Linked DNA regions of Homo sapiens: all the other regions are linked to region 3. The links come from fine-mapping of genetic effects on gene expression. A gene starts in region 3. Each other region holds a variant in brackets. All regions are shown on one strand. Distances are between the middles of the regions. Region 1 overlaps BCLAF3 (BCLAF1 and THRAP3 family member 3). Region 2 has its middle 8.3 kb from the start of RPS6KA3. Region 3 holds the start of BCLAF3 (BCLAF1 and THRAP3 family member 3). Region 4 overlaps RPS6KA3 (ribosomal protein S6 kinase A3). Region 5 has its middle 19 kb from the start of SH3KBP1. Region 6 overlaps BCLAF3 (BCLAF1 and THRAP3 family member 3).

Evidence for each region. PIP is the estimated chance that this variant, and not a neighbour inherited with it, causes the effect.
Region 1: its variant is fine-mapped to the expression of BCLAF3 in minor salivary gland (GTEx, PIP above 0.99).
Region 2: its variant is fine-mapped to the expression of BCLAF3 in whole blood (TOPMed, PIP 0.94).
Region 4: its variant is fine-mapped to the expression of BCLAF3 in tibial artery (GTEx, PIP 0.93).
Region 5: its variant is fine-mapped to the expression of BCLAF3 in sigmoid colon (GTEx, PIP 0.94).
Region 6: its variant is fine-mapped to the expression of BCLAF3 in whole blood (TOPMed, PIP above 0.99).

What each region holds. Positions count from the first base shown.
Region 1 is chrX:19,956,461-19,961,551 of GRCh38, reverse strand. The region is part of intron 4 of BCLAF3 (BCLAF1 and THRAP3 family member 3); the gene reads left to right. Among named protein-coding and RNA genes, the nearest start is that of BCLAF3, 32 kb to the left of the region's middle. The variant G/A (reference allele first, on the strand shown) is at 2,527.
Region 2 is chrX:20,272,619-20,277,709 of GRCh38, reverse strand. No RefSeq gene overlaps it. Among named protein-coding and RNA genes, the nearest start is that of RPS6KA3, 8.3 kb to the right of the region's middle. The variant A/G (reference allele first, on the strand shown) is at 2,701.
Region 3 is chrX:19,987,861-19,992,940 of GRCh38, reverse strand. BCLAF3 (BCLAF1 and THRAP3 family member 3) reads left to right here and starts at 1,880. Exons shown (of 12, transcript NM_001367774.2): 1 at 1,880-2,033. LOC729609 (a long non-coding RNA gene) reads left to right here and starts at 3,162. Exons shown (of 2, transcript NR_024440.1): 1 at 3,162-3,255. RefSeq lists silencers at 1,538-1,967, 2,008-2,057, 2,128-2,497.
Region 4 is chrX:20,195,582-20,200,672 of GRCh38, reverse strand. The region is part of intron 4 of RPS6KA3 (ribosomal protein S6 kinase A3); the gene reads left to right. Among named protein-coding and RNA genes, the nearest start is that of EIF1AX, 56 kb to the right of the region's middle. The variant C/T (reference allele first, on the strand shown) is at 2,478.
Region 5 is chrX:19,904,131-19,909,220 of GRCh38, reverse strand. No RefSeq gene overlaps it. Among named protein-coding and RNA genes, the nearest start is that of SH3KBP1, 19 kb to the right of the region's middle. The variant T/C (reference allele first, on the strand shown) is at 2,877.
Region 6 is chrX:19,913,497-19,918,587 of GRCh38, reverse strand. It overlaps BCLAF3 (BCLAF1 and THRAP3 family member 3), which reads left to right. Exons shown (of 12, transcript NM_001367774.2): 12 at 1,254-5,091. The coding sequence ends at 1,283. Among named protein-coding and RNA genes, the nearest start is that of SH3KBP1, 28 kb to the right of the region's middle. The variant A/G (reference allele first, on the strand shown) is at 2,303.

The DNA.
Region 1 (5,091 bases), 31 kb after region 3:
TTATTGGTTAACATCTAGAGAGTTTATCTGCTTTTTTTTGGAAATGCTAAGATGGCTAATTTTGTGCATTTATTTACTTAGCTTTGGTTGAGAATTGATATTTGTTCTTCCAATTGTCAGTATGGTTGAAAACATAAGGTTATCACTGTGATTTTTTTAGATTCTAGTTTGTATCTAGAACAGCAGTAGGTAAACACTTGCTTGAATGTTCACTGCATAGTTAATGCTTCTGTTAAGAAAGACTGTATTCTAATGATCCACTCTGTCAGAAACTTCATTATCAGAAATTACATCTGAGTCATAATTATATGTTTCAGAATGTAAGTTAGGGAATCACAGTATGAAAATTTCTACTAAGGTTGTTACATATGCAAAACATGAACTGTTGTATATATGCATCTGGATGTTTTGGGGCAGACAAATGCAGGTGTTAGTTTAATGTTGGGCTTGAGTGAGTGAGGGCTTGACCCTTGGCTAGGCCAGGAAGGAAGAGGAGGAGGGAGGAGGTGGTACTAATATCTGGAGCAGAATAAGCTGCTGCTGATGGATCAGAGACTCCTTTGATCTCCTGGGAAGCTGATACGAGACACCTGGGACATGGGGAAGGTTGTCCATCAGCATTCATGGCTATCAGAGTTGATGGTGGACTGAGTACATTGGCCACATTTGTGTCTAATCCTTTATTTCCCACTGAAGAGACATAGAGGGGTGTCTCTACCCCTATCAGCTCTTTTCCTAGTTTGAAAGGGGATGAGGTGGGGGATGGGCCCCAGAGGACATTGGGACCCTGACACTCTGAGGAAATGGGTATCACGCAGGCAGGGAACAATGTGAAAAGCCATAACTGAGATTGAAGGAAGGGAACCTAGTCACATAAGTGTACCTATGATGGACACTGTTCCGCTGGAGGCAAAATAAGATGCAGGTGGGGATATTTTTTATACCCAAACCTGCCACCTTGCTGTTATATAGCATAGAAAACTAAAGTTCTCCCCTACTTTAATTTCTCATATGCATTTTAAAATCAAAAATTAATTGAGAGAAGGTTCCCTTTCATTCCTATTTTTGACCCTAGCTTCTCTTGGTGTCTCTTAGGGGGCCTTGTGTAGGGATTCTGTTGGCAGTTAGAGTGCATATGTTTTTGTCTTCCTATGGACCACTGATCAGCTTTGTGACATTGGGCAGGTCACTTGGCTGTAACCTTTTGGGACCAAATTAACCTGCAGTTCCTCCTGGCTCTTTGAGTCTGCTTGGATTGGCCATGTGTTGGTGACCATTGAAGCTGAGTTGACAGACACATGGAGGCTCATAATGTTCATCTCTGAACTTTAGTATATATTAGAAATTTTATACTAAAATATTAAATTCAAATTGGTCTAAGTTAAGCAAAAAATAAAAATAAAAGCCAAGAAAGTTAAAAAAAATTAAATTGGCCTCAATTAAAATGTTGAAGTCTGGCTGGGCATGGTGGCCCACGCCTGTAATCCCAGCACTTTGGGAGGCTGAGGCAGGCAGATCCCTTGAGCTCAGGAGTTTGAGACTAGCCTGGGAAACATAGTGAAACTCCATCTTTACAAAAAATACAAAAATTAGCCAGGTGTAGTGGTGCACACTTATAGTCCCAACTAATCAGGAGGCCGAAGTGGGAGGTTGGCTTCAGGAGGCAGAGGTTGCAGTGAGCCGAGATCACGCCACTGCCCTCCAGCCTGGGTGACAGAGCCAGACCCTGTCTCAAAAAGAAAATAAAAATAAAATGTTGAAGTCTTTTCTCTCTCTCGGCAGAGTCTTGCTCTGTCACCCAAGCTGGATGCAGTGGTGTGATCACGGCTCACTGCAGCCTTGACGTCCTGGGCTCTAGCGATCCTCCCACCTTAGCCTCTCGAGTAGCTGGGACTATAGGCACACGCCACCATGCCTGGCTATTTTTTTTTTTTTATTTTTAGTCGAGATGAGGTCTTGCTGTGTTACCCAGGCTGGTCTTGAACTCCTGAGCTCAAGCAATCCTCCTGCCTCTGCCTCCGAAAGTGTTCAGCCTCTTGAGTAGCTGGGATTACAGGCGTGAGCCACCGCACTTGACCTTATCATCTCTCTAGCTGAAACACTCATTTCAAATTGACCAAGTCATTTTTGATTCATTATTTATTCATTCAGTGGGTATTTTTTGAGGGCCTACCCTGTGTGAGACAGTCTGTTAGGGTGCCCTGGGACTGTAGAGCTGCATACGATTAGGTTCCTCCTCCTTTGGTTTATTGGAGTGCATGTGTGACTCAGCAGAAGATGGGTGGTACCAAGCTGGGAGATTGAAGAGAGGCATCATGTAGTTGACATGTGAGCTAGGCTTCAAAGGCTGGTGTATGCAGACACATGGAGGCAAAAGAAATTTTATATTTACAGGTTAACAATGGCAGAAAAACATACACATGAACTTTGACCTGTGTGGTTTTGAGCAGTCAGTGAAAAGGAATAGAGGGAAAGGAGACTGAAAGGTAAGAATGCTGCGACTGCCAGCCTGATTTGACATTATCA[G/A]CTGATAGGAGAGGGCTGGCAGCCCAGTTCTGGCCGCCAGAGGATTGCTGTCTATGAAGTAGACTGAATGCATGTTGGGGCTGGTGAGGCCCACTAGAGGACTTTTGTGCAAAAAGTGAGGAATTAGGGGAGGAGCAATCTCCCTGAACTTTTTCCATCAACTCCACAGTTTCTAAATTGGTTCTTGGGAAGACAGGAGCAAATTATATACAGTCATGCATTGTGCAATGATGGGGATACGTTCTGAGAAATGTCTTGTTAGGCAGTTTTGCCACTGTCTGAAGATCATAGAGTGTATTTACACAAACCTAGATGATGTAACCTACTACACACCTAGGCTATATGGTAGAGCCTATTGCTTCTAGGCTACAAACCTGCACAGCATGTTACTGTACTGAATACTGTAGGCAATTGTAACACATCAGTAACTATTCGTGTATCTAAACATATCTAAACATAGAAAAGGTACACTAGAAATACAGTACCACCATCGTTTAAGTGGTCATTAATGGAAACGCCGTTATGCTGCATGTGACTGTAATTGGGAAAGTGCTTTATATGAACTGTAGGATGCTGTATGAAATGTTAGTTATTAGTTGGAAGAAGACAGAAAGGAAAACTTTATATGTGTCGTACGGATTTTGATAGAAGCTTCCAGAGGGCAGGGGAATCTGTTGGTTTTGGTTGTTGTTGGGTTTTTTGTTGCCGTTTTGCCATGCAGTTCATTTCTTTGATGAGTCCTAAGTGTGTGCAACAGGAAATTAAGGTTTAATGTAGCTTTTTACATTTTCTTGGTTATTACCCACAACGCTCAGGGAGAACATCAGTGGAAATATCCTTAAACAGAAAAATAAACGGGGAAAGTGCAGTCGAGGGAACAAAGGATCTTGGAAGATTTAATGAAACTGATACCAGAAATAGTATTAGAATAGAGGTTTTTGGCTGTATTTTAATTTTTTAAATTGTCTAAAATGCATCTCAAATGAGAACATTTGATCTTTTTAGCTTAACTACTTGCTTTGGGGGTATTTCCTGAAATTATTAACTTGTTAATCAATCCATGCCACAGGAAATAGTAAAAAGTAAAATGTGAACCAAAAGATGATTACATTTACAAATATAAATATTTAGAACATTTTGCATTCTCAAGTCTAAAGAGGGTTTTTCTTGTACCAAAAGTATCATAATTGTTTTTAAAAGACTAAAATTTGGAGGTTATACTATGTTAAATGTATATTTTCTAGAAAATGATAATTTAAATTTTTTATTAAAGATCTTGTAGTAGAGGAACTCTAGGATAAATTTTAATGGATAACAAGTTTAAACACTAAGATTTTAGGAATTAAATATATAATAGCTTCAAAGTATGTAACTCCTATGGATTGAGGATTGAGCATGGAGTGGGGACAAGAGTTTCAGCAGTAATTTGTAAGAAATTATAAGTAAATGTTAATAATTACTCATTGGAAAACTGAACATCTTTATCAGCTTATTTCCTCTTGGGATAAACTGAGGCTGCCAGAAAAAAACCTTATCAACTGATTTCCTCTTGTGGATGGACCATTTGTATAGTTCTATTTAAATATACTATTTTCCTACTATAAAATGTTTTTAAAGGCTATTTTTTCTTTTGCTATGGCACAGGAATTTTGTAACTTTAGACCCCCTTAAACAGAGAGCATTTGTAATTCTTTGTTAGTGGAGGTCGTTACGGGGTGTTCTAACATTTGCCAGCAAATGTCTCTTAGCTAGTTATCACATACACAGTGGGAAGCTTGGAGCAAATTAGGAGGAAAGAAGGGAAATGGGCCTTCTTTCTAATGAAAGTCCTTCTAATGAATCAACGAAACCACAGCAGTGCGGTCAACCTGCTGCATGATTACTTTTCTGTGTTTCTGCCTTGGCAGGGAGTTGACCCTGGCAACGCTGGTCTGAGAGCAGGGAGCACGGAAAGTTAGATGGAAGCCTTTCCTCTGATAAGTTATAAATAGACACTCAAAACCATTTTATTAGAGGAGCTAAAATTTTTAAAGAATATCTGTAAGCCCCTCATAACCCTGCAGCAGTTTGGATATATGGCTGTTACATGACTTAAATAAATAAGTACATATGTGCATGCGTGCACTCATACCCCCAGACACATCTGTCTGTTTGCTTTCTGCTTTATGATGAGCTATTTATTCCAGTGGTGTCCTGTTATTTAAAACATACTTCAGGGCTCTCTTTCAGATTTATCTTCTGAGCCTGTAATGTAGCCATTAAGAACCCCAGCAGTTGCAAATGTCAATTCTTTAGACAGTGAACTTGATTTTTGAGAAGAGCCAAAAGCAATTTAGAGTTAAGTACAGAGGAATGAGATAGGTACAAGCTGATTAGTGCCATTTTGGGTCCAAAATGAGATATAAATATAAAATAATGAGAAAATTTTTTCATTGATGCATGAGGTGCCTGCAGACAAAGCATTTCTGAGTAGTTTTAAGCAAGTGCAGCATTCTTGGAATAAGGTATAGTTTTCCATTACAACACTTGGAAGACATGTTCATTTGAATGCTCAATCTCTGGGAT
Region 2 (5,091 bases), 280 kb before region 3:
CATTGCCCTGGCCAGAACTTCCAATACTATGTTGAATAGGAGTGGTGAGAGAGGGCATCCTTGTCTTGTGCCAGTTTTCAAAGGGAATGCTTACAGCTTTTGCCCATTCAGTATGATATTTGCTGTGGGTTTGTCATAAATAGCTCTCAGTATTTTGAGATATGTTCAATCAATACCTAATTTATTGAGTGTTTTTAGCATGAAGCGGTGTTGAATTTTGTCGAAGGCCTTTTCTGCATCTATTGAGATAATCATGTGTTTTCTGTCATTGGTTCTGTTTATGTGATGGATTATGTTTATTGACTTGCGTATGTTGAACCAGCCTTGCATCCCGGGGATAAAGCTGACTTGATCATGGTGGATAAGCTTTTTAATGTGCTGCTGCATTTGGTTTGCAAGTATATTATTGAGGATTTTCACATCAATGTTCATCAGGGTTATTGCCCTGAAATTTTCTTTTTTTGTTGTGTCTCTGCCAAGTTTTGGTATCAGGATGATGCTGGCTTCATAAAAGGGAGGAGTCCCTCTTTTTGTGTTGTTTGGAATAGTTTCAGAAGGAATGGTACCAGCTCCTCTTTGTACCTCTGGTAGCATTCGGCTGTGAATCCGTCTGGTCCTGGACTTTCTTTGGTTGGTAGGCTATTAATTACTGCCTCAATTTCAGAACTTGTTATTGGTCTATTCAGGGATTTGACTTATTCCTGGTTTAGTCTTGGGAGGGTGTATGTGTCCAGGAATTTATCCATTTCTTCTAGATTTTCTAGTTTATTTGCATAGAGGTGTTTATACTATTCTCTGATGGTAGTTTGTATTTCTGTGGGATCAGTGATAATCTCCCATTTATCATTTTTTATTGTGTCTATTTGAATCTTCTCTTGTTTCTTCTTTATTAATCTGGCTAGTGGTCTATCAGTTTTGTTAATCTTTTCAAAAAACCAGCTCTTGGATTCATGGATTTTTTGAAGGGTTTTTCATGTCTGTATCTCCTTCAGTTCTGCTCTGATCTTAGTTATTTCTTATCTTCTGCTAGCTTTTGAATGTGTTTGCTCTTGCTTCTCTAGTTCTTTTAATTGTGATGTAAGGGTGTCAATTTTAGATCTTTCCTGCTTTCTCCTGTGGGCATTTAGTGTTACAAATTTCCCTCTAAATACTCCTTTAGCTGTGTCCCAGAGATTCTGGTACGTTGTGTCTTTGTTCTCATTGGTTTCAAAGAACTTATTTATTTCTGCCTTAATTTTGTTATGTACCCAGTAGTCATTCAGGAGCAGGTTGTTCAGTTTCCATGTAGTTGTGCAGTTTTGAGTGAGTTTCTTAATCCTGAGTTCTAATTTGATTGCACTGTGGTCTGAGAGGCTGTTTGTCATGACTTCCGTTATTTTGCATTTGCTGAGGACTGTTTTACTTCCAATTATGTGGTCGATTTTAGAATAAGTTCTATGTGGTGCTCAGAAGAATGTCTATTCTGTTGATTTGGGGTGGAGAGTTCTGCAGACGTCTGTTAGGTCTGCTTGGTTCAGAGCTGAGTTCAAGTCCTGAATATCCTTGTTAATTTTCTGTCTCATTGATCTGTCTAATATTGAGAGTGGGGTGATAAAATCTTGCACTATTATTGTGTGGGAGTCTAAGTCTCTTTGTACGTCTCTAAGAACTTGCTTTATGAATCTGGGTTCTCCTATATTGAGTGCATATATATTTAAGATAGTTAGCTCTTCTTGTTGAATTGATCCCTTTACCATTATGTAATGCCCTTCTTTGTCTTTTTTGATCTTTGTTGGTTTGAAGTCTATTTTATCACAGACTAGGATTGCAACCCCTGCTTTTTTTTTTTTTTTTTTTTTTGCTTTCCATTTGCTTGGTAAATCTTCCTCCATCCCTTTATTTTGAGCCTATGTGTGTCTTTGCACGTGAGATGGGTCTCCTGAATGCAGCACACCAGTGGGTCTTGACTCTATCTAATTTGCCAGTCTGTGCCTTTTAATTGGGGCATTCGGCCCATTTACATTTAAGGTTAATATTGTTATGTGTGAATTTGATCCTGACATTATGATGCTAGCTGGTTATTTTGCCCATTACTTGATGCAGTTTCTTCATAGTGTCGATGGTCTCAAAGTGGTGCTTTTCTAAGTCCAGCATTCCTTCTACATTTATAAGCCAGAATTCTTCTGTAAAGACCATTCTTTCATCAACTAATGCTATACGGTTCACCTGAAATACAGTTTGTATAAGAAAAAGCATGATAAATTCTTAATTTTTTTTATATTGCCATTAATGGCTGGCAAAAAAGAAAGAAAGGTAGGCATCTTGCATCTAGGCAAAGGTGCCAGGATTTTATCCTGAGCTATGGAAAGCCACTGTGGGTTTTAAGCACATAGGATGAACAAGATAACATTTTCATTTTAGGATGCACCCTTTATCCCTTGTGTAGAGAATGGGTGAAAGTCAGGAAGGCTCTGAAGGGAGCTGTCATAATTCAGGCCAAAGATGGGGAGGGCCCAAACTGGGGTGGGGGTAGTGGAGCGAGAGAGAGTTTGACAGAATCCAGATTAGAAAGGAGAATCCAAAAATCTAGTAAAATAATGTGGGAGGTGCGAGAAGAAGGGGAGATGGAGGAGGGTAGGATGACATAATGAACCCTATATTTCTGATATGGTCAATTAAATAAATGGTGATGCCACAAAACTCCTTGAGAAATACAGGAAG[A/G]GAAGTATAGAGGAGTTAGCTCCTAAATGAAAAACGAAGTCTGCCCAAACATGGACTTCCCAGACAGAAGGAAAGATTTAAGAAGCTACAGTATAATTTTTTTCACTTCAGTCTAATAAATAATAGTGAGTACATATTAGGGGGAAATTACTCATATATAGAGTTGTCTGGATTCTGGAGATCTATAAAGAAGAATCAGGGATTATTTTGTTAGCATTAAATGTTTAACCTGAAGAAATTAAATTCTAGGCTCTATTCCTAATCCATTTGTAAACACATTCCAAATTCCTCTCTGTTGTTATTTTTTTCCCTATTGCTTACAGAGATATGCCTACTATTTTAGGAAATCCTTAATAGTGGATGTAGTGTTTTCAGAAGTGAAAAATGCTTTGCAAGTGTATAAGCAAAAATCTTCCCAGTCGTTGTATTAGTTTCCAAGGGCTGCCATAACAAAGTACCATAAACTGGGTGGCTGAAAACAACAGAAATTTATTGTCTCAGAGTTCTAGAGGCTAGAAGTCTAAAATCAAGATGTTGTCAGGGCCATGTTCTCTCAGAGACTCTGTGTGGAATCCTTCCTTGCCTCTTCCTAGCTCCTTGCCACTTCCTAGCTTCTGGTGGTTTGTCAGCAATCTGTGGCATTCATTGGCTTGTAGATGCATCATTCCAATCTTCTGTCATTACCTGGCATTCTCCCTGTGTCTCTGTCTTCACATGGCTATCTTCTTATAAGGAGACCAGTCCTAATGGATTAGGGGCCCACCCTACTCAAGTATGACCTCATTTTAACTAATTACATCTGCAACACTCCTATTTCCAAATAAGGTCACATTCTGAAGTACTGAGGATTAGACCTTCAACGTATCTTTTTTGGGAGAATCATAATTCAACCCATAACAGTGGTCTAAAGACCCATGGTAAACTATGAAAACAAAAATTTTCATTTGAAAATTATCTATTTTAACACCCTTTCAAAAGCTTTATATTGCTCTTTGGAGAAGCTGAAACTTATTTTCTTTTTTTTTCAAAATGAAATTTCATAGAATCTTACAGTGTCCACCAAGGCAAAATAAAATAAAGACTAACAGAGCAATACAGCATATGAATATATTTAATAAACATAGTCGTTTAAATACTTATTTAATTGTATTTTGTGGTACATTTTCCTAAGCATTTTCCTGAAATCTTTGGGAGAACTCATTATAGTAAGAAATACTCATTCTTTATCAGAATGAAACACTAACCTTTGCTAACAGTACCTATTGTTTAAATAAAATGAGATAACATATGTAAATCATTTAACAGTTTGCAAGTACTCAACAGCTGTTAGCTACTTTTTTTTGTTTGTTTTTTGTTTTGTTTTGTTTTGTTTTTTGTTTTTGAGACAGAGTCTCATTCTGTTGCCCACGCTGGAGTGCAGTGGCACAATCTCAGCTCACTGCAACATTCACCTCCTGGGTTCAACTGATTCTCCTGCCTCAGCCTCCCGAGTAGCTGGGACTACAGGCGCATGCCACCACACCCGGCTAATTTTTGTATTTTTAGTAGAGACAGGGTTTCTCCATGTTGGCCAGGCTGGTCTCGAACTCCTGACCGCAGGTGATCCTCCCGCCTCGGCCTCCCTAACTGCTAGAATTACAGGAGTGAGCCACTGCACCCAGCCCTGTTAGCTGCTATTAATATATATTTAGTACTCTTAGCATTGCAATGATGATTAAATTACATGTGAAACACTTACATCAATGCCTGACCCACAGTAAGTACTCAGTAAGTGTCTAGCTATTATTATCATCATCACCATCATTATAAAAAGTGTTCAAAACTTTTGGTAAAGTGTCCAAAACTGCCAATACTACTTCGAATTGGCTTATTCTTGCTTAAACGTGAACTCACTATTTGCATACAGTCTTATTAGTCTTAAAATTTTTAATAAAGCCATTTAATCTATAGAATTCATCTCTTATTTTCTAGGCAATTGTAAGTTATTTCAATTCAGTTTTCTTATTTAAAAAAGGAATTCCTTAATGTTTAACCCCTTCCCAGGTTTTTATTCTTATTTTATTAGTTACCAAGAACATGACTTGAAAATAAGCTACTGAAATATAATTGATCTGTTGCTTAATGAAAATGTACTTTACTTACAAATATGGCATTATTAATCCATGAGCAGTTTTTCCAGCAATGGACCTGATTTGATAGTGCCTCACTCACACAATTTTTGTGATTAAAGCTGCAGAGTTTCCAAACATGGAGATTTGGGATTCAGCTGGTGGTCAAAGAATAGAGTTCCATTTAATTCCATAGTGTTCTGCAAAGACACTTCCAGTTGAGGTCTGGCTACGGGCTGGTCTTAAATACAAGTCACTAAAAAAGAATTTTTTAAAAAAAGTA
Region 3 (5,080 bases):
GCACAGTGGCTCCTGCCTGTAATCCCAACACTTAGGGAGGCCGAGGCAGCAGGATCACTTGAGCCTAGAAGTTCCAGAACAGCCTGGGCAACATGGCGAAACCCTGTCTCTACAAAAAAAAATTTTTTTTTTAATTAGCTGGGCATGGTGGTGCACGTCTGTTGCAACAGCTACTCTAGAGGCTGAGGCAGGAGTGTCACTTGAGCCCAGGAGTTTGAGGTTACAGTGAGCTATGATTATGCCACTGTACTCCAGCCAGGACCACGACCAAGTGAGACCCCTGACTCTTAAAAAAAAAAACAACAAAAAAAGGCCGGGACGCGGTGGCTCATGCCTGTCATCCCAGCACTTTGAGAGGCTGAGACAGGCGGATCACTTGAGATCAGGAGTTTGAGACCAGCCTGGCCAACATGGTGAAACCCCGTCTCTACTAAAAATACAAAAATTAGCCGGGCATGGTGGCGCACACCTGTAATCCCAGCTACTCAGGAGGCTGAGGCAGGAGGATCACTTGAACCTGGGAGGCAGAGGTTGCAGTGAGCCGAGATCGCACCACTGCACTCCAGCCTGGGTGACAAGAGCCAGACTCTATCTCTAAATAAATAAATAGGCCGTGCGCTGTGGCTCACGCCTGTAATCTCAGCACTCTGGGAGGCTGAGGCGGGAGGATCACCTGAGGTCAGGAGTTCGAGACCAGCCTGGCCGACATGGGGAAACCCTGTCTCTACTAAAAAAAAAAAAAAAATTAGCCGGGCATGGTGGCGCAGCCTGTAATCCCAGCTACTCAGGAGGCTGAGGCAGGAGAATCACTTGAACCCGGGAGGCAGAGGTTGCAGTGAACCGAGATCACACCACTGCACTCCAGCATGGGTGACAGAGATTCTGTCTCAAAATAAATAAATAAGTAAAAATAAAAAAGTGGTTGTAGTCAAAGGCTATGGGTTTAAGTTGGGTAGTGGGATTTCAACATTTAAGGTTTTAGAGATGGAGCAGTATCAAGTGATGAATATCTAGATTTTCTAGACTACGGGTGAACAAAGTAGAAGTAAAGGTCATTCGGATTGAGGAACTGAAGGAAACCAGGCTGGGTTGTGGATGTTGGATTCATTGGGAGGATGGCAGTAAATCAGATGGAGAGGAAAACTAATGCCAGACAGTCAGTAGGTGACAGTGACAAGGGAGGGCAAAAGGTGTTACTACCAGATGGCACAGAGCCTGAAAGAGCTATTTCACAAGGGGAAGAAAGAATATCAGTGTCAAGCGGAAAGCTTCAAGAGTGAAGAAGACACACTACCTTTGAGGCTGGTGCATGGAGTGTGGGAGGGGAGAAACCAAGCGAGTAGACAGAGATGAGGCAATCTTTTGAATTGGATGACGGATAGATGTTGGTACCATCCGACCATTTGGGAAGTCCAGAGGGGAGGCTTTGTTTTCCGGGAATATGCTTAATTTGAGGAGTGGGAAATGGATAGAGGGTAGGTGAATGGTTAGAGATCTGCACAAAGCTGGAAGGCCCACGGGATCAAGTTCTGCCCATGACTGAGGGGTGACCTCCAATCCCTGGGCCTTAACCCCCAGGATCCCTGGACCTGGAACGCCCATTAGGTCCCCTCCTTTCCGGCGAGAGGGCGGCAGAGGGCGCAGGCGCTCTAGCCGGACCCGGCGGGCGGGTGGCAGAGGGCGCAGGCGCCCTGGACAGAGCGGCCGCAGTGGGAACGGCCGGCAGGGGGCGCAGCGCTCTGGTCCGAGAAGCCCGGGCGGGGCACCCTCGCCGGGAGAGTAGAGGATAGGGGTCGGCTGGAGAACGGGCCCAGTGCGAGGCCGCGAGCAGTGGGCGGGGCCGGGGTGGGGGCGGGGCGAGGCGGTTCCGGAAGGAAGTGGTTCCGGGTCCCGCGGCCCGGCAGAGGTGGCTGGGGTGTCGCTGCTGTGGGAGGCGGCGGCAGAGTGAGGGGCGAGGCCCGAGGGGCCGGCGGCGGCGGCGGCGGCGGCGGCGGCGGCGGCGGCGGCGGCGGCGGCGGGGGCTTCCCGGCCGGGTGAGCGGCTCGGGGGGAGGCGGGGCGAGGAGGCCTGGGCCCGCAGGGAGGGCGTGTCCGCCACCCAGGAGGGGCGGTTCTCGGGGTGGCGGATGGGGCAGCGGGGAGGATGCGGCGGTCCGACTCGGGTTCTGTTGGGACAGCTCCTCTGCGCCCCGTAGGTCCCTCGGTCAGCGCCTTCCCTTGGGCGCGGCGACCCGGCGCGGGTTTCCAGGGGACAGCTGCCCGGCGCCCCTGAGGTCCCTCGACAGGCACGGCGACCCGGGCACCTGCTGCCGCGACCCTGATCCTCCGCCGTCGTCGGGCAGGTTGCGGTCCCCGCGGTTCCCTGCATCTGTTAAGAGGGCGGGGGCCGGGAAGGCGGTGTCCGGGGACGGTGCCCTTGTCCTCGAGGCGGCCCTGGACGCGTCGCCTGCGGGGCCTGAACCGAGGACCCCCCCGTACCCCGCTTTGTCCTGGTGAGGCGCTCCTGCCGCGCAGCGGCATCTTCCTCTGTTAACGTCGAGAATGAGTAGTGAAGGCTGCTCATTATCCTGCATTGTAAAGTAAAACTTGTCTTTTTAGAAGCGTCTCCTGAAAATTGGCGCATCTCCTGTGCTTCTCTGGGTTGTATTGGGAAACTGGGCCAGTCGCTGTCAGGACTGTCCTGTTGGTAGGTCTCGAGGGAAAGAAATGGGAGAGAAACCTACCCCGTAAATATTTTCCTACTCAGGTGCTTTTCGAACTACCTATTAGGTGATTGCCTTTTTTTTTTTTTTTTTTTTTCCTGGAACAAATTACAAACTGCAGGTAGAAATCAGGAAGGCCTCTTTAGGCTCCTCGCCAGGCAGCCTTTTTAGCATTTTTCTGAATGTGAACAGGTCCAAACGACAGAGCAGAATTTGAAAAGAAAGGTTTTGCTGCAGATTCATAACGAGGACTTTATTTTTCATTGGTATTTTAATGGTAATGGTATAGCAATGTTTTATTTTTAATGTTTTTTTTAAATGGCTACTAAAATTTTATTTTGAAATCACAGCTGTTTCAGTCACCCCCAAGAAACCTTTAAAACGTCTTATTAGAAACATTTTTATATATAGGAACATTTAGCCATTTATACACATTTCTAAGATAGAAATCACAATGAAGATACGTTGTTTCACTATTCCAAGTTCCAAGTAACCATGGTGAATATGGTTTCCCCATTCCAAGTAACCATTGTGAATGTGGTTATACACCTCCAGTCTTTTTCTATGCAGAGCTTAATACATGAGTTTTTCTAAAGTGAATTCTCTTTTGTAATTATCTTTTTCTGACTAGATAGCATGCCATTATATGGCTGTAATATTATAATTTATTTCATTGGTCATTCTCAGTTCTTCCCTATTAAAATACATTGTTGGGTAAATGTAAAAGTCCGCATATCTATGATTACTTTCGAATCTCACTCTGTCGCCCAGGCTGGAGTGTAGTGGCACGATCTCGGCTCACTGCAACCTCCACCTCCTGGGTTCAAGTGATTCCCCTGTGTCAGCCTCCCGAGTAGCTGGGACTACAGGCGTGTGCCACCATGCCCGGCTAATTTTTGTATTTTTAGTAGAGATGGGGTTTCACCATATTTGCCAGGCTGGTCTCAAACTCCTGACCTCCAGCGATCTGCCCGCCTCGGCCTCGCAAAGTGCTGGGATTACAGGTGTGAGCCACCGCGCCCGGCCCATGATTACTTTCTAAGTGTACATTCCTAGATGATAGAATTATTGGGCAGAGTATGCACATAAGGGTTTTTTTTTTTTTAATGTGAATTGCTCAATTTCCCTCTGGAAAGGATATGCTGTTTTGCACTCCTACCAACAATCTGTGAGTGTCCTTACCCACACCCTAGCAAAAGGCAACATTTAAAGGGATTTCTATAGGAATACTTTTGAGCCATACTTGTACTCTCCAACCAAGTACAACTACCCCTCTCTAGTCATCACTTTTTTCTTATTTGTTGATAGCACTTCAGCTTCTCATCTTTTATTGCGCCTTTACTATTTTGGTAAAGAAAGCTTATCTAGGTGAGGCAAAGGCGTAATAGAACAAACAAGAGATTTAAAGTTAGGATCCCCTTGAAATCCAGTATATCTGATTATCTTGAACAAGTCACTTAACTTTTCTAAGGTACTCTTTCCTCAGTGATGCATTAGGGGTTATAATACAGTTGCCTTACTTTTCTTAAGGATTATTTTAAGGGTCAGTTGAAACATTCCTGGAAAGTACATTTAGACACACTTTGTCTTGTTGGTATTTTTAAAAATTATTTTTAATTTATTATTTTTAAATAGAGACAGTGTCTCACTATGTTGCCTAGGCTGGTCTCAAACTCCTGAGCTCGAGCGATTCTCCTGCCTTGGCCTTGCAGAGTGCTGGGATTACAGGCATGAGCCACTGCACCCGGCCATGTTATTACCATCTGGTAGAAATTTCAGAGCACAGAAGCATCTTGAGGTTCATACATTTTTTAAAGTAAATACCTTAATTCAAAAGGCTATTCTCTGATACCCTTTGCCCCCATACTCTTTCACTCCTTAAATTTGAAGTTTTTTGTTTTACTGCTGCCCTAGATTATATTCAAAACTTTATCAGGGTTATGAAATTAGATGAGTGAATGAATCTGCACAAATGTTGAAGGAGCAAATATTTAAAAGCGCTATATAAAGCTGAGAGGGACAGGTATAACGCTAAATAAAACACAGTACTTGGGCTCATGATAAATAAAACATGGTCTTTGTGCCCTGCAGGCTACATTATCCAGGCAGCAGAGGGCATAAAAGCTGCTTTCCAAATTTAGATGGCAATTTTAGATGTGATGCCTGATGTCAACTATTCTCAAGTATGCTAAAGCCCATTTCTGCTGACCAAGCACCTGAGCAAGTGACCGGGCAGCCTCCACAGGGTCATCTTTCTGAAGGTAGGATTCGCAAGGTGAGGAAGTGGTAGTATTATAGTCCAAGAACCTGGGTTCTACTTTCAGGTCCTCCACCTGGGGCAGATCAGTTAACTTTTTTGAGGCTGGCTTTATTCACTCG
Region 4 (5,091 bases), 210 kb before region 3:
CGTTATAAAATTATGGTTTACCACTTAATAGGATATTATTAAAATAAAGTATCTTAAATAAAATTACAAAAATGAATGTAGTGAAAATTAGAACAAATTGAGCTACAAGTATGTAAAATTGTATAGATATTAGCTATAAAAGAGATGATAGAAAAGTGAAAATATTTGACTTATTGGAATTTTAAACTGCTGAATAATTGTGAATGTGTTCTTAAATTTTTATGTTTATCAAAAGAATATCTGTAGAGTCTTATCATATAACATAGCTATGCTTTGCCCACTCTTCTGCCTATCCTAATTCTTGAACCCCAGAGACAATGACTTTCATCTCTTTAGCTGCTGCCATTTACATTTATATTCAACACTTTTATATTGCAATTGTTTGTTTTCATTTGGAGACATAATCTATTGCCTTTCTAACATGGAAGACTAAGATTCAGTTCTCTCATGCTGCCACCCACTCACAGTTTCCCTTTTCACATCTTCCCAATAATGTTTTCATTGTTACAGCTTTATAAGAATTGTTCCTAGCTGAACGAAATAGTATACTACAGTCACATTTCCTTCACTTCTTTTCTGTATTCAGTCTCTTTTCATAAATTCTGTGCCTACCTTTTTCTCAGTTTACTTTTTAGTTTTGATGGAACTCATCTTCTCATAGCTACCTCAGAATGAGTAAATGGATACTAAATTTTTTGTGACCCTCCATGTCTGGAAATGGCTTTATTCTACCGCCTGTCACTTAGTTTATAATTTGGCTGAGTATAAAATTCTAGGTCAGAAAGAATTTTCTACCAGATATTTGAAGGTATTGCTTCCATTGTCTTCTAGTTTCCTGTGTTACAGTGATGAAGTTAATTGCTGGTCTCACTCCCAGTCCTTTGTGTGTAAGCTGCTTTTCCTCTTTGGGAGTCTTTAGAATCTACTCTTTATTCCTGGTGTTCTGAAATTTATATAGTGGTATTCTTGAGTGTGGGTTTCTAAAACTATATCATATGATATATGAGGTGTGGTCTCTTTCAACCTAAAAACTCCTTTCTTCAGTCTTGGGAAAGTTTTTGTCATTTATTCTACATTTGTAAGTGCTGCTCTTTGGAATATGTTAGTTAAACCTCCTGAATTGTTCCTTAATTTTCTTTATTTTTCCATCTTTTATTTTCCATTTTTTCTATTTTCTGTGAAATTTCTTCAACCATCTTCCAACTCTTCTATTGACCTTTTTGTTTCTGCCATCGCTTTTCATTTCCTAGATTTTCTTGTTCTCTGATTATTTCATTAAAACATTTTTCAATTATGGAAAGTGTCAAACATTTAAGAAAGAGACAGAAGAATATAGTGAACCCCCTGTACCCTTCTCCCTGCTTCAACATTTATCAACTCATGGCCAACCTTTTTTCATCAGTGTTCTCCTTCTTCTTCTCTTGATATTTTGAATGAAATCCCAGACACTATAGAATTTCTTTCATAAATATTTTAGTATATATCTCTAAAAGATAGACTCCTGGCTGGGTACGGTGGCTCACGCCTGTAATCCCAGCACTTTGGGAGGCCGAGGCGGGTGGATCATGAGGTCAGGAGTTTGAGACCAGCCTGGCCAACATGGTGAAACCCCGTCTCTACTAAAAATACAAAAATTAGCTGGGTGTGGTGGCGGGCACCTGTAATCTCAGCTACTCAGGAGCCTGAGACAGGAGAATCGTTTGAACCCAGGAGGCGGAGGTTGCAGTGAGTCGAGATTACATCAGTGCACTCCAGCCTGGGCGACGGGGCAAGACTCCATCTCAAAAAAAAGATAGACTCCTAAAAGAGATAATTCAACTGTATTATCATACCTTAAAAATGAGCATAAAGATATCCAGTCTTTGTTCAAATTGCTAGTTGTCCCTACTATTAAAATTTATGTTTCTTTATGCAGTCTGTTTAAATTAGGATCCATACATATAAGGTCTCAACTTTGCAATTGGTTGATAATGTTTTTAAGTCTTTTCATCTATGAACTCTTTCTTCATTTCTTATCTTTTCCTTGTAGTTTATTTGTTGCGGATACTTGTTCCTTCCTCCACCCCACCACCCTTTTTAAACAAGAACAAGAAGCTTTAAAAAGGGTGAGGTGCCATATTATCTTTGCTCCCTCAGTGGACATAAATTACAAGATTGAGTTGTGTTGTGTGGTGTTTAAGTTATCTTCTGTTCCTCACATTGTCTCTGTTTCCCTTTATTCCATTTTTCTGTTTATTTTGATGTTTTTCATGTTTAGAGCCTTTCTCCAAATGCCTGGGGGTCTTTTGCTATCTTTTCTTTAAGAGTCGGGTGCTAGAAAGCTGATTGGAAAGATTTCAATGACAAGAATTTGCTTATTTTTCATTGGCTTCTTTTCCTTAGGCTTAGATTTTTAGCTTTCTCTGGTCTGCTTTGTTAGTTACCACTTGCACATCTTCTACTATTGCTTCCTGTCCTTGTGAGTTTATGCAGTTTTT[C/T]CATTATTGTCATTTCCATGGGGTTTTGGAAGAATGTAGAGAGTAAAATATCCATGTTTAACCAGAAGTCTCTTCCCATTTTAAAGTTCCTGTTAATACGATAAATGGGGTCAAATACAAGTCAATAACATTAGATAAAGTTAATGGGGACTTCTGTCCTATTAAAGTGGTCTGTTTGTCTAAAAGGTTCTGTAAACTGCTTAAAAAGGTTTCTTAATGCATAGTCCTAGGAACATAAACAACATTTCTTCATTCTCAGGTTCAGTCAAGTAGGGCTTAAATCTAATAACTACTCTAGAAGAAAAAATATTTCAGAGGAATCTAGTTGCTTTGCCAGCATGAGTCAGTATTAACCAATTCTATGTTGGGATTAGAAGTTGGCCTATATAAAACATGCCTTCTTCTGAATTAGTATATACTAATTAAAATTCCTCATGGTAGGATGATTTAGAATTGTCACTAGGTCTTTACATAAGCAAAAGAAACGAGATTAGAATTATGACACAGGCCTACCTCAGACAAAATGAAGGAATTCTTTAGAGAAGGACTCTCACTGCTCATTTTCAGTTAAACAAGGTCTCATCAATGTTACATATAAGGAAATGTTGAAGAGAAAACTGTCTCACAAAAAAATCATCTTGGTTCTAATCCTTCATTTTATAGAGGAGGAAACAGGAAATCCCTGAGCAATGAAATGATTTGACCAAGGTAGTTATGAGTTCATCTAGTTATTAGTATAGCCACTAAACTGTAGTTCTTGACTCCCAAATAATTGTTCTTTTCATTGTGGTAAAATAAGACAAGAGGGATATACAGTGCATTTATTAGTGGATATTTTTGATGCTTACTGAGCAGACGAGGTATTTTTAAGTGATAAGCCTTGTATACTTATTGAAAGAGGTAGGACTTTGGAATCCACCTTTAAGGTGATAGGAACTAATCCAAAATTGTATGGTAATAATGAGAAAAGGACAGATTTAGGCTAGACTAGAATAGAAATATCAGCAGGTATTGGTGATGAACTTCACTCACATAAAAAGTACAAAGGGCATATCAGGCTGGGCGTGGTGGCCCGTGCCTGTAATCCCAGCACTTGGGGAGGCCAAGGCAGGCGGATCACCTGAGGTCAGGAGTTAGAGACCAGCCTGGCCAACATGGTGAAACCCCGTCTCTACCACAAATACAAAAATTAGCCAGGTATGGTAGCACAAGCCTGTAATCCCAGCTGCTCGGGAAGCTGAGGCAGAAGAATAACTTGAACCCTGGAGAGGGAGGTTGCAGCGAGCCGAGGTCACACCACTGCACTCCAGCCAGGGCGACAGCGATATCCTATCTCAAAAAAAAGGGGGCATATCAGATATAACAAGGAAAATACCAGAGTTGTAGCGATCGGGCAAGGTAATGAAATCAGAGATTGCTATTGAATTTGATATACTAACTGGACAGGTCAGTTAAAAGAGCTGCGTAGACATCAAGAGCAATTGATTCCTATTTCTGATTTGCCCATTTTCAGTCAGTGGTATGAAAATCTCCCAGTTGGGGATAGAAAACTGGTAGAATGGAAAAAATAGGGCATTTTTTAGCTGCTTTGTTTATTTTCCCCAGAGGTCTTATTTCTATATTTTAAATATCTGCAGTCACCCTAAACTGAAAATAAAACCAACTCAACTTTCTCCCTCCTCCAAAGATTGTCCTATTCTTTCCATTTTCATGTTTCATATAACCATTCAGAGTACTTAGAATGTATTATAATCATTTATTTACCTGTCTGTCCTTCCCACTAGATCATGAGCTTCTTGAAGATTATCTTATTTGTATGTATATCCCTAGTGCATTGCACATACACTTTGCTCAGGAAATATTTGGTTGCTGAAAAAGAGCTTTGCTCACAGGGTCAAATATAAATTCATCTTGGCATTCCAACTTCTCAAGAATCTGGATCCTCCCCATTTCGCCTTGGCGCAGTAGTAAATCTCATTTGGTTCCTTCCTGTTTGTCATTCATGCCTTCACATCTTTGCTTACACTGGGTACTCCATGCTTGGACTCTTGTTTTCTAGGGCCTATCCTTCCTACCCATCTAAATGCCACTCCAAAAGTCTTAAAGCTTGCTCCCTGACCCTACATCTTTCTTCTAGCCTTCCTATGCAAGTAAGACTGATCTTGCCCTTCTCTGAATCCTGCAGTACTCATTGCTGGTAGTAAATTGTTTTATCCCTTAATCATATTCATGGTGCTACTTTGCATATAATAACAATAGCTACTATTTAATTGAATATCTCATACATACCAGGCTCTAGGTACATACCTTATCTCAAATGGTCATATGCTCCTCAAAGCTACAGTAGTGTTATCCCCATTGTGTAGCCGAAAGGTAACTGAGTCTCAAAGAATTTAAATAAGTATCTTGCTCGTGATTGTACAGATCTTGTGATGCTTAAGTTTTTTTCAAAAAAAAGATTACACAGATCTGAATTCATATCTTTCTGTCTAAACTCCAGAAAACATTTGCTCTTTCAGCTATACCACAGTATGTTCTCTCTCTCCCTCTTGCTTCCTTTCTTCTTCCCTCAAAATAGACCTCTTTGGATATAACTGTCCTTTACCCCATGTCT
Region 5 (5,090 bases), 84 kb after region 3:
AAAAAAAAATAGAGTCATCAATAGATACTAAATATATGAGGCAATTTTGATGAGCAGGACATTTCAATGTGTAAAAGTGTCTTCTCACAGATCGCTTATTTATTGCAAGGCAGGAAGGAAAAACAGCAATTATACAGTGGAAAGAACAGACAACTCCTTGACTAGGGGATGGAAATTAACATCACCAAGGAGGAGCAGATGGACATCAGTGTGATACTGTTACAGTGGGTAGCTAGTCTGGTATGAGCAGGGCAGGAGAGGGCTCCCCCGACCCACATACCAGGAGTGTCAGGCAACCATCAGGTGATAGTCAGGCGGTGGTTAACTGTCTCTCTAAAATAATGGTGATCAGCAGCTTCCCGATAAGATCTCAGGAGTTGGGAGGAGTAACGCAAGACCCCAGAAGTATGCCAACCTATAAAACCCCAAGTCAAAAGGTCAAACCGTGCACTTGCTTTTCAGGTCGACTGCTTGGCTTTCTTCCAAGTATACTTCATTTCATTCCTGCTCTAAACTTTTTAAATAAACTTTCATTCCTGCTCTAAAACTTGCCTCCATCTCTCCTTCTGCCTTATGCCTCTCAGTCCAATTTTTTCTTCTGAGGAGGCAGTAATTGAGGTTGCTGCAGACCCGTACAGGTTCATTGCCGGAAGATATTTTGGTGCCGTGTGACACGGATATGGATTCTCCACTGCTAACAATAGATAACACAGCATCACTAATATGGTATGTTGGCTGGGAATGCAGCACTTGAATATAATCATAAAGAATCATCAGACAAACCCAAAATGAAGACCATTCTGGTTTTTAAAGAGGGCCTCCATTCTTTCTTTCTTTTCTTTTCTTTTCTTTTCTTTTTTTTTTTTTTTTTTGAGACAGAGTCTCCGTCTGTTGCCCAGGCTGGAGTGCAGTGGCACAATCATGGCTGACTGCAATCTCAACCTCCTGGGCTCAAACGATCTTCCCACATCAGCCTCCCGAGTAGTTGGGACCACAGGTGCATGCCACTGCACCTGGCTTTTTTTTTTTTTAAGAGATGGTGGGGGGCGGTGGGGGGGTCTCCTTATGTTGTCCAGGCTGGTCTTGAACTCCTGACCTCAAGCAATCCTCCTACCTTGGCCTCCCAAAGTGCTGAGATTACAGGTGCGAGCCATCATGCCCAGGCATGTTGATGATTTTGGTCCAAACCAATCTTCATGGCTATGGTGGCAAAATGATGATTTTCTAACTCCAGTGCTCCCTCTACACTTACCAGCTGGCATTGGCATTCTGCTGTAAGCAAGACTCCTCCCTTCTTCCCTGCTTATTTGTCTATTTATTATTGATATGGATTCATTTCTACTTTTTCAGTGGCTTATAATTCATTATTGTCCTTGATTATTTGGGAGCTCAAATGATCCTAGCTTTGGCCAGTGGGAGCCCCTTTAAGCTGATTGCTGTGTCCTCTTGATATGGACCTATCATTCCTTTTTTGACTTTATCTTTTTTATTTCAGTAGGTTTTTGGGAAACAGGTGGTGTTTGGTTACGTGAATAAGTTCTTTAGTGGTGATTTCTGAGATTTTGGCGCACCCATCACCAAGCAGTGTACACTGTAACCAATCTACAGTATCCCTTGCCACCCCCCACCCTTTGCCTCAAGTCCCCAAAGTCCATTGTATCATTCTTATGCCTTTGCATCCTCATAGCTTAGCTCCCACGCATGAGTAAGAACATACAATATTGGTTTTCCATTCCTGAGTTACTTCACTTAGAGTAATAGTCTCCAGCCAGGTGCAGTGGCTCATGCCTGTAATCCCAGCACTTTGGGAGGCTGAGGTGGGTGGATCACCTGAGGCCAGGAGTTCGAGACCATCCTGGACAACATGGAGAAACACCGTCTCTACTAAAAATACAAAAAAAAAAAAAAAAAATTAGCTGGGCGTGGTGGCTCATGCCTGTAATCCCAGCTACTTGGGAAGCTGAGGCAGGAGGATCACTGGAACCCAGAAGGTGGAGGTTGCAGTGAGGTGAGATCACACCACTGCACTCCAGCCTGGGTGACAGAGTGAGACTCTGTCTCAAAAAAAAAAAGTCTCCAATTCCATCCAGGTTGCTACGAATGCCATTATTTCATTCCTTTTTCGTTATTTCATTCCTTTTTATGACTCAGTAGTATTCCATTGTGTGTGTGTGTGTGTGTGTGTGTGTGTGTGTGTGTGTACCACATTTTCTTCATCCACTCGTTGACTGATGGGCATTTGAGCTGGTTCCATATTTTTGCAATTGCAAATTGTGATATGCACCTATCATTTCTTTTTAGCACTTCTTTGCTCTGATGCATAACAAAATGTTTTGGTCTTTATCTTGGACATTCCCTGCCCCAGGCTTGAAATCATTCATTTTTCTAAGGAGTCCTGGTTCCTTTTAGTGGGGGATGGTATTAGAGTCCAAGACTTGGGCCCTAGTGCCCATTGCTACTGGAGTGTCTTTGCTTATAAGCATTTTCAGCAGCCATATCTAGGAAACACACACACACACATACATGCATATATATACATATTTTAGAAATGATGAGGTCACACTGGCACCTACCATCCATCTCCATAGGATTCTTCCTTGCCTTCTCCTGTTTGATATTTGTATGTCCCTTCCTCCACAGTGAGAACCCTGGCTCCCAACATCAAACGATTTAATCATTTGCTCAATCCCATAATACATCTAAAGTAGTTTCGGAATTGCTTCACTTATACCACAGCAGGAAACAAACCTACTAAAAATAGTTCAGGATTTGTTTGCGGTTCTTCAGTGCCATGCCCCAAAGACAGAAGGTATATGGACAAATACTGTGTACATAAATTACTTGCATTAGTCTCCTCCACTCCTACCCCTGTGATA[T/C]GGTCATGTTCTTCATTAGAAATACAGTTGTTTTTTCCAACTTGTTTTCAGTGGTAGCTCTCCCCACCATCCATGTTTATTTGATTTGATTTTTTTCAATATGTAGAACATTAACATACTTCCTCAAATCAAACTATACCAAAAGGTATGCTCAGGGAAGTGTCACTTCCTCCTGTATTCCTTCAATACTATTCCTTCCCACTCCTTGTAGGTGACCAACTTCGGGTTTCTCATTCCTGTGTATTTTTTGGTATAGACAAGCAGATATATGTATGTTTTCTTATTCCGCCCCCCCTCCCCGTTTTTTTCCATATACAGAAAGCAGCATCTTCTATATTCTCTTTTGCACTTTGCTTTTTTCACTTAAGAAATCTTGGAAATTGTTCCATACCAGTTTGTGCGATTGTCTTTTTTTTTTGACACGGAGTCTTGCTCTGTCGCCCAGGCTGGAGTGCAGTGGCACAATCTTGGCTCACTGCAACCTCCACCTCCTGGGTTCAAGCGATTCTCCTGCCTGGGCCTCCCAAGTAGCTAGGATTACAGGCGCCTGCCACCACACCCAGCTAATTTTGTATTTTTAGTAGAGAGAGGGTTTCACCATGTTAGCCAGGCTGGTCTCAAACTCTTGACCTCAGGTGATCTGCCTGCCTTGGCCTTCCAAAGTGCTGGGATTATGGGCGTGAGCCACCATGCCTGGCCTCATTCTTCCTTATAGCTGCATAGTACTCCACTGTGTAGCTGTTATCATAACTTATTCAACCACACTCTTATATTTGGACATTTAGGTAGTTTGACATTTTGCAATTACAAATCATGCTGTAATCAATAACCTTGTGCATATTTATTTTCATATTGTTGGAAGTGAATCTTCAGAGTAAATTCCAAAAAAAAAAAAAAAAAAGTGAGATTGCTGGGCCGAAGGGTAAAATGTATATGGAATGTTGTTAGATATTGCCAGCCCTTCTCCATGGGAGTTGGACCAGGGTGCATTTCCCCCAGCAGTGGATGAGAGTGCCACTTACCCCACAGTCTGGCCAGCAGTGTATTGACAAGCTTTTGAATTTTGCCAATCTGACCCATGAAAAATGATATCTCAGCATTTCAACCTGAGCTATTTTAATTTCAAACGCTAGAAAAAAGTCCTGGTTACAGTGTGATTGTCAGGTATTGAAACAGATTTTATAGACTCTCAACTTGGTATTCTCTAGAAAACTCTCTGGAAACAGTTTTCACCCTAGGAAAATTTTAGCATACATCCCACCCAACTGGATGGGGATGACTTCTGAACCGCTCTAACTGGTTTTTCTGCAATTTGGTCTCTTCCTGTTCATGTTTTAGCAGGTGGGGACTCTTCTAAAGCTTTCTTGCCCCACCTATTGGGCAAGAAGGGGAATTGAGCTGCCTTTCTAAAATACTGCCTAGAAACCAGATGACATGCAGCGCCCGCCAAGATGTTCTGGCCTCATAGACCTTAGTTCAAAACAAGAATCTAAAGAGAACACGATATGTAGATTTATAGCAATGGCTCCAACATACTTCTAGAACATGTATACCTAAACCACATTCTGGAGAGCGTTAGTTAATAAAGATAGTTGACATATTTTTTCTTAGCCGTTCTAACTCCTACATGTGTAAATTTTGGTGACAGCTGCTTGCTGCAGTTAGCCCCTAAGGTCTCAGATGCTCATTTTAAAAAGTTACTTCTTTACACGAAATGGAAGTAATTATTTTCTGGTTATGAGTAATGCATGCTTGATACGGGAAAGAAATCCTAGAAAATATGGGAAAGTATAAAGAAGAACATTAAAATGACCTGTATGCCTACTACTCAGTGGTAAGCATGGTTAACAGTTTGGTCTTAGTCCTTGTGTTCAGGCACAGTGGCTCACGCCTGTAATCCCAGCACTTTGGGAGGCTGAGGAGGGGGAGGATCATTTGAGTCCAGGAGTTTGAGACCAGCCTGGGCAACATAGTGAGACCCTGTCTCTACAAAACATTAGAAAAAAAAATTAGCTGGGCATGGTGGTGCGCACCTGTGGTCCCAGCTATTCAGAAGGCTGAGGTGGGAGGATCACTTGAACCCAGGAGGTCAAGGCTGCAGTGAACCGTGATCATACCACTCCAGCTTGGGCGACACAGTGAGACCCTGTCTCTGGAGAAAAAAATCCTTGTGTACTTTTGGCACATATATACCCACTTTGCATGCACACACAT
Region 6 (5,091 bases), 74 kb after region 3:
GCCTGGGCAACGGAGACTCCATCTCAAAAAAAAAAAAAAAAAAAAAAAAAAAAGGCCGGGTTGGGGGGGCTTTTAAATCATTGGAAGGGTGGAGGGATCAAGTGGAGATAGGTTATGAAAGAAGCTATGTCAAGGGTGAATGTAACTCAAAATAATCACACATTTAACAAGATACTTCAACTGAATCTTATTTTAGAATTATTGTAGTTAGAATTTCCTTTTAAAGTTGTAAGTAGGTAACATTTTATTTGAAGATAAATTTATATGATTTTTATATTGTATAATGAGTAAAGAACTAGGATACAATGAAGTCTACCTCTATTTAAAGGAATGATGTTGACAAATATATACGTGCATGTATTTTGAAGATTTCATTAACCAAAATAGAAGAATAAGAATTTTCTATCAGCACTGTTTTTGTTTGGAATTAAACATTTCCATACTAATATAAATGCCAAAAAATAAATCAACTTTTACATTTCTTTCAGTTTTAATAGTGTAAGATCCTAGTGAAAGGTAAGGATATGTATATTAATAAATTTTTATTTTTTAATGTCCCTAAAAAATGTGCCATTTTACCATGTTTGCTCCGTTATTACTTGCATGGTCTTATGTCCAGTTTGTGGTTAGTAATTGAATATTGTGCATAGTATCACAGTATAGAATCCACGTTCATTATTCTCTAATCATAGTCTCATTGTTCTTGTAAATTCTTCTTCCTGTATTTATTGAAGCCTTACACCTTTTTATACTGTAGTCAACCATCCAAAAGTAAGAAGGCATTTCCCCCTCTAATAACTTTCTCTGCAGTTATCAGTCAGTTAAAAGAGCCCATGTAGTTTTAGAATTAGAGATATAGGGTGGAAAAGATAAAATACTAATTTGAGGTGTGCGTGTGTAGTGTCAGGCTCCGTACTTGAGAGCCAAAGGTTTAAGAGTCTTGATTTTATGCCAGGGATGCCTTCACTGAAACTCACCCAAATAGCAGAAGACTGTTTTCATCAATTTACTAATATCAATGTTATCTAGCACCACATGTTTTCTTTGTCCTATTGATTTATCATGCGATATTGCTTTGATGTGTTCTGTTGTTACTTTGCGCCTTTGGGGTTCCACATGCCTTCGTGGGAATCTCGGGGTGCAAGTAACACTGTATAAACGAAAATACTTTGAAAATTGCAGTGTAAACAAAACTAGCTCAGATGTTTGACACTTTGTTTGAAGTCTTTATTTCTCTTGTTTTCTCTCAATAGGAATATACAGATGTTGCCACAGGAATCTAATCTGAAATCGTACAAATGGAAATGACGCTACAGGAGGATGTTTGGGAGCATCTCTCTCTTTTTGTCAGGAGTTAGAAGTGACACTAAGGCACTAATACTGTAACTTCTTGATAAAATAACTTTATTTTTTAGTAGTGGAATGCTGCAACTTTTTTACACCTAACAATTGCTTTTAAATTACAGTATTCAATTTAAAAGTTGTATTAACTACAGTTTCCTTTGCAAAAAGTCTCAAAAGAATCACTTGAAGGGCATTATTTGTTGATGCATTTTTCTCTGAGCATGGTTTCATAGAGAGAACTTCACCAAGTAATATTCAGACGTTTATATGTTGAAAGTTTTGCTTACATAATAAAAACAAAAACAAGTGTCTGAATTGTATAGTGTCTTTACATGAAAGAACTTTAAACAGTGGCCTTATGGTAGAAAATTTTATACCAGATTTTTCTTTTTCTGATGACATTTTGGCTTATAACTCGAAGTTTTCTTAAGTTTCTGAAGATCAAGGCCTATATAATTCATACATTTCATATTATAAGAAGGCAAGAGACAAGGTGCTTCAAATATTCCATCAGGTAGTTGTGAGTGCACTGAATTTTTAGTAATATGTTCATTCAGTTTTTTTCCACAACTATTTGCTCTTTTCCAATTTCAAAATGCTATTGTGGAAAATATGTAAAGATTTTGTAATCTATAGTCCATCTTATTTTTCCCTCAGGGCAAGCTTGTGCATATCATATTTTTAAAGGCTTTTTAAAAATCTGACAAACAAAATCTCATATTTGAAAATTGTACTTTACTACTACAGCATTACACATTTTGCAAGCACATCTTATAGAGTGTTTACTTTTAGTTCAGTTGATATGTATTGCATACCTACTATGTGTAAGAGCAAATGGATGGGATTTTTAAATGAAATTTTTAGGCCCCAATACCTTATTTCTTTATGTTTTCTGTGTTCTGCTTAACAGTACATATACATTCCCAATTACATTTTTGTGAAATGTTTATTTGTAATA[A/G]AATAAAATGTTGTTGCTCTTTCTGCTTAAATAAGTTACTTGCCAGTTTGTGAGAGCATTATTTTAATTTTGTTTGAGACTTATAGCCTTGGATAGCACCTCTGTTTAAACAGTGTTTAAAGCACTGTTCTGTGCTTACAAAGACAGAGCTTTCAAAATTAAAATGTGAAGGTTGATAAGAACTTGGTTTTTCATGACTGGATGTGAAAAATCTTAGTACATTCAGTTTTCTTGTCCATATCTTTAAAAGAGAGGGCAGCCTTTTCCTTAAGTGAGTTCATGATAAGGGGGGCAAGTGCACTTGATTCATTGCTAAGCAGGTAATAAATTTGGGTAGATGGCCTGTCTTGTACTGTGTACAATCTCTATAGGTCAGGTTTTCCAAACATATTTAGCATTCCACTTATGGTAAGAAAGAAATGCATGCACACAGGTAGTATGGCAACTTTATATTGTGTTAGGTACTTATAAAATCTGTCTTAAATTTTAAAATAATTGATTTCATTTACTCCCATATTCTAGGGGACAGTAATGAGCTTTGAATATTTAATCATTTGATTGACAACTATGTATTGCACAGATACTGTACTAAAATTACAGCAATGAACAAGAAGACAAGACACATGGACCCTGCCTTTATGGTACGAAGAGTCTAATAGGAAAAATGGACATTAAACAGAAATATAACTTGGTAAATCGCCTTTATAGCTCGCTTTTTATTTATTGTAACACATAAAGGTAAGATGGCTGATTTACTATTATTCATTCCACAACTGATTCCCTATTTGGATATTCTTTTGGCACTGTCTCAATATGCAAAGCGTGTTATCTGCAAAATACCTGTGCAGAAAACATTGTGTGTATAAGATCTAAAGCCTAAAAGGAAAAACCAACTTTATAATTTAGAGTATAAAATAAGGACAGGGACCGTGTCTGTCTTGTCCACCATAGTATCCCCAGCACCCAGCTTCCTATTTGACGTGTGGTAAGAGTTCATTAAATATTAGTTGAATAATGAATGAATAAATAGGGAATAATAGAATATGTTTATTAGGAACTACATGTGTAATTTTCATATGGAGATTGAACAAAAGGTTATCCATAGCATTTTTTATTGACTGGAAAGAATTTGACTTCTTGAATGCATAAGACTTGAGAAGAGAAGTTTTTTTTTTTTTTCTTTTTTTTGATAAGTCCCCTACCATTGCCTCCTCACCTTCCTCCACTACGTGCTAGGCCCTTCGCTGGTACTGGGAAGACAAAGATAATAAGACACAGTCCCTGCTGTGAGGAAGCTCATGCACTGCTGAAGAAGAGATTCACAAAAACAAAGAATCACAATGTAGAGTAAGTACTTTAGTGGACATATATACAAAAGGTTGAGAGGAAAGTTGACATTTCTGATTCAGCATCCCCTCGTCATGTTTCTTTCCTATTGGTTTCACCAACCTCAGAAGGCACTATTCTGTTGGTGGTTTTACTGGTTTTAAAAATTGATGCATTGGGGGAAACTGGGTAAATTGTACGCGGGATCTCTCTGTATTATTTCTTTTATAGCTGCATGTGAATCTAGAGTTACTTCAACATAAATTTCAATTTGAAGAATTGCCCATAGTCTTATCACAGAGAACACTATTATAAATATTTTAGATGATACATTTTCATTTTTTTCTATTGGAAAAAAACTCGCTACATTTATGTGTAACAATTTATGTAGATGTATACTATGTACCACATTTTACCTAATAAATCCTACATTTTTGAATAGTTTTTTTTTTAAAAAAAAGACGGGGATACTTCCAGGCAGAAGCAAGAAAAGTAAAGCTGGATGAGAAACTCTTATTGTCTTTATTACCCAGCAAATTCAGTAACCACCAGGCACAAATTCACCAGGAACAACCAAGCAAGGAAGGAAGAAGAAGCTGATGCAACAAGGTGTGGTATGACTTCATCCCTCGCCCATCCCCAGAAGTAGCACTGAGTAAAACAATGGAGATGACAAAAATATTGGTAACAGTGGGCCCCAGTATGGACAAAGGCACTGACGAGGTGACCAGGCCACGTGGAGGAGAGTCAAGGAAAACTCTTGGGACAACGAAGTCTTTGCTTCCATCTCAGGACCTCAGCAGAAGGGGTAAGATTCACCAGGACTAGGCATTTCCCAGGTCTCAGAGCAGCCTGGGAAAGCCAAATCCTGCAGAAGTCAGAGACACCTTTGACTGTGTCTAGTGAGTTCTGGTTCTGGACATTTAATGGGAACCTAGAAGAGAGGGGATACCAGGTTCCCCAACAAAGTTCCGTCAAATAGGATGATTATGAGCTCTGAGTCCATTAAAATACAGAATGAACATTTAAGAACTGAGGAATCATAGATGTAGAATAGTATGTAAATGTTATAAATCTTGACAAAGAAAAATTAATGTACATTGACAAATTCAGACATGGAGGAGGTAAAGTGGGATAAAGACTTAAGAACTAACCGTCTCATCATTCATGGCCAGGTGTCATGTCACGTCATGTCTTAAAATTATAATATGGGGAAAAACGCTAGTGACCAACCTTAAGTTTTTCCACAATCTTTTTTTTCCTTGACCTTAATACAGTGGTTCTCAAAGTGTGGTCCCAGACCAGCAACATCAGCATCACCTGAGAACTTGTTAAAAATGCAGATTCTTGGCCCCACCCCAGACCTCCTGAATCAGAAACCCTGGGGGTGGGGCCAAGCAATCTGTGATTTAACAAGTCCTCCAGGGGATTCTGGCACATACTTGAGTTTGAGAATAACTGGC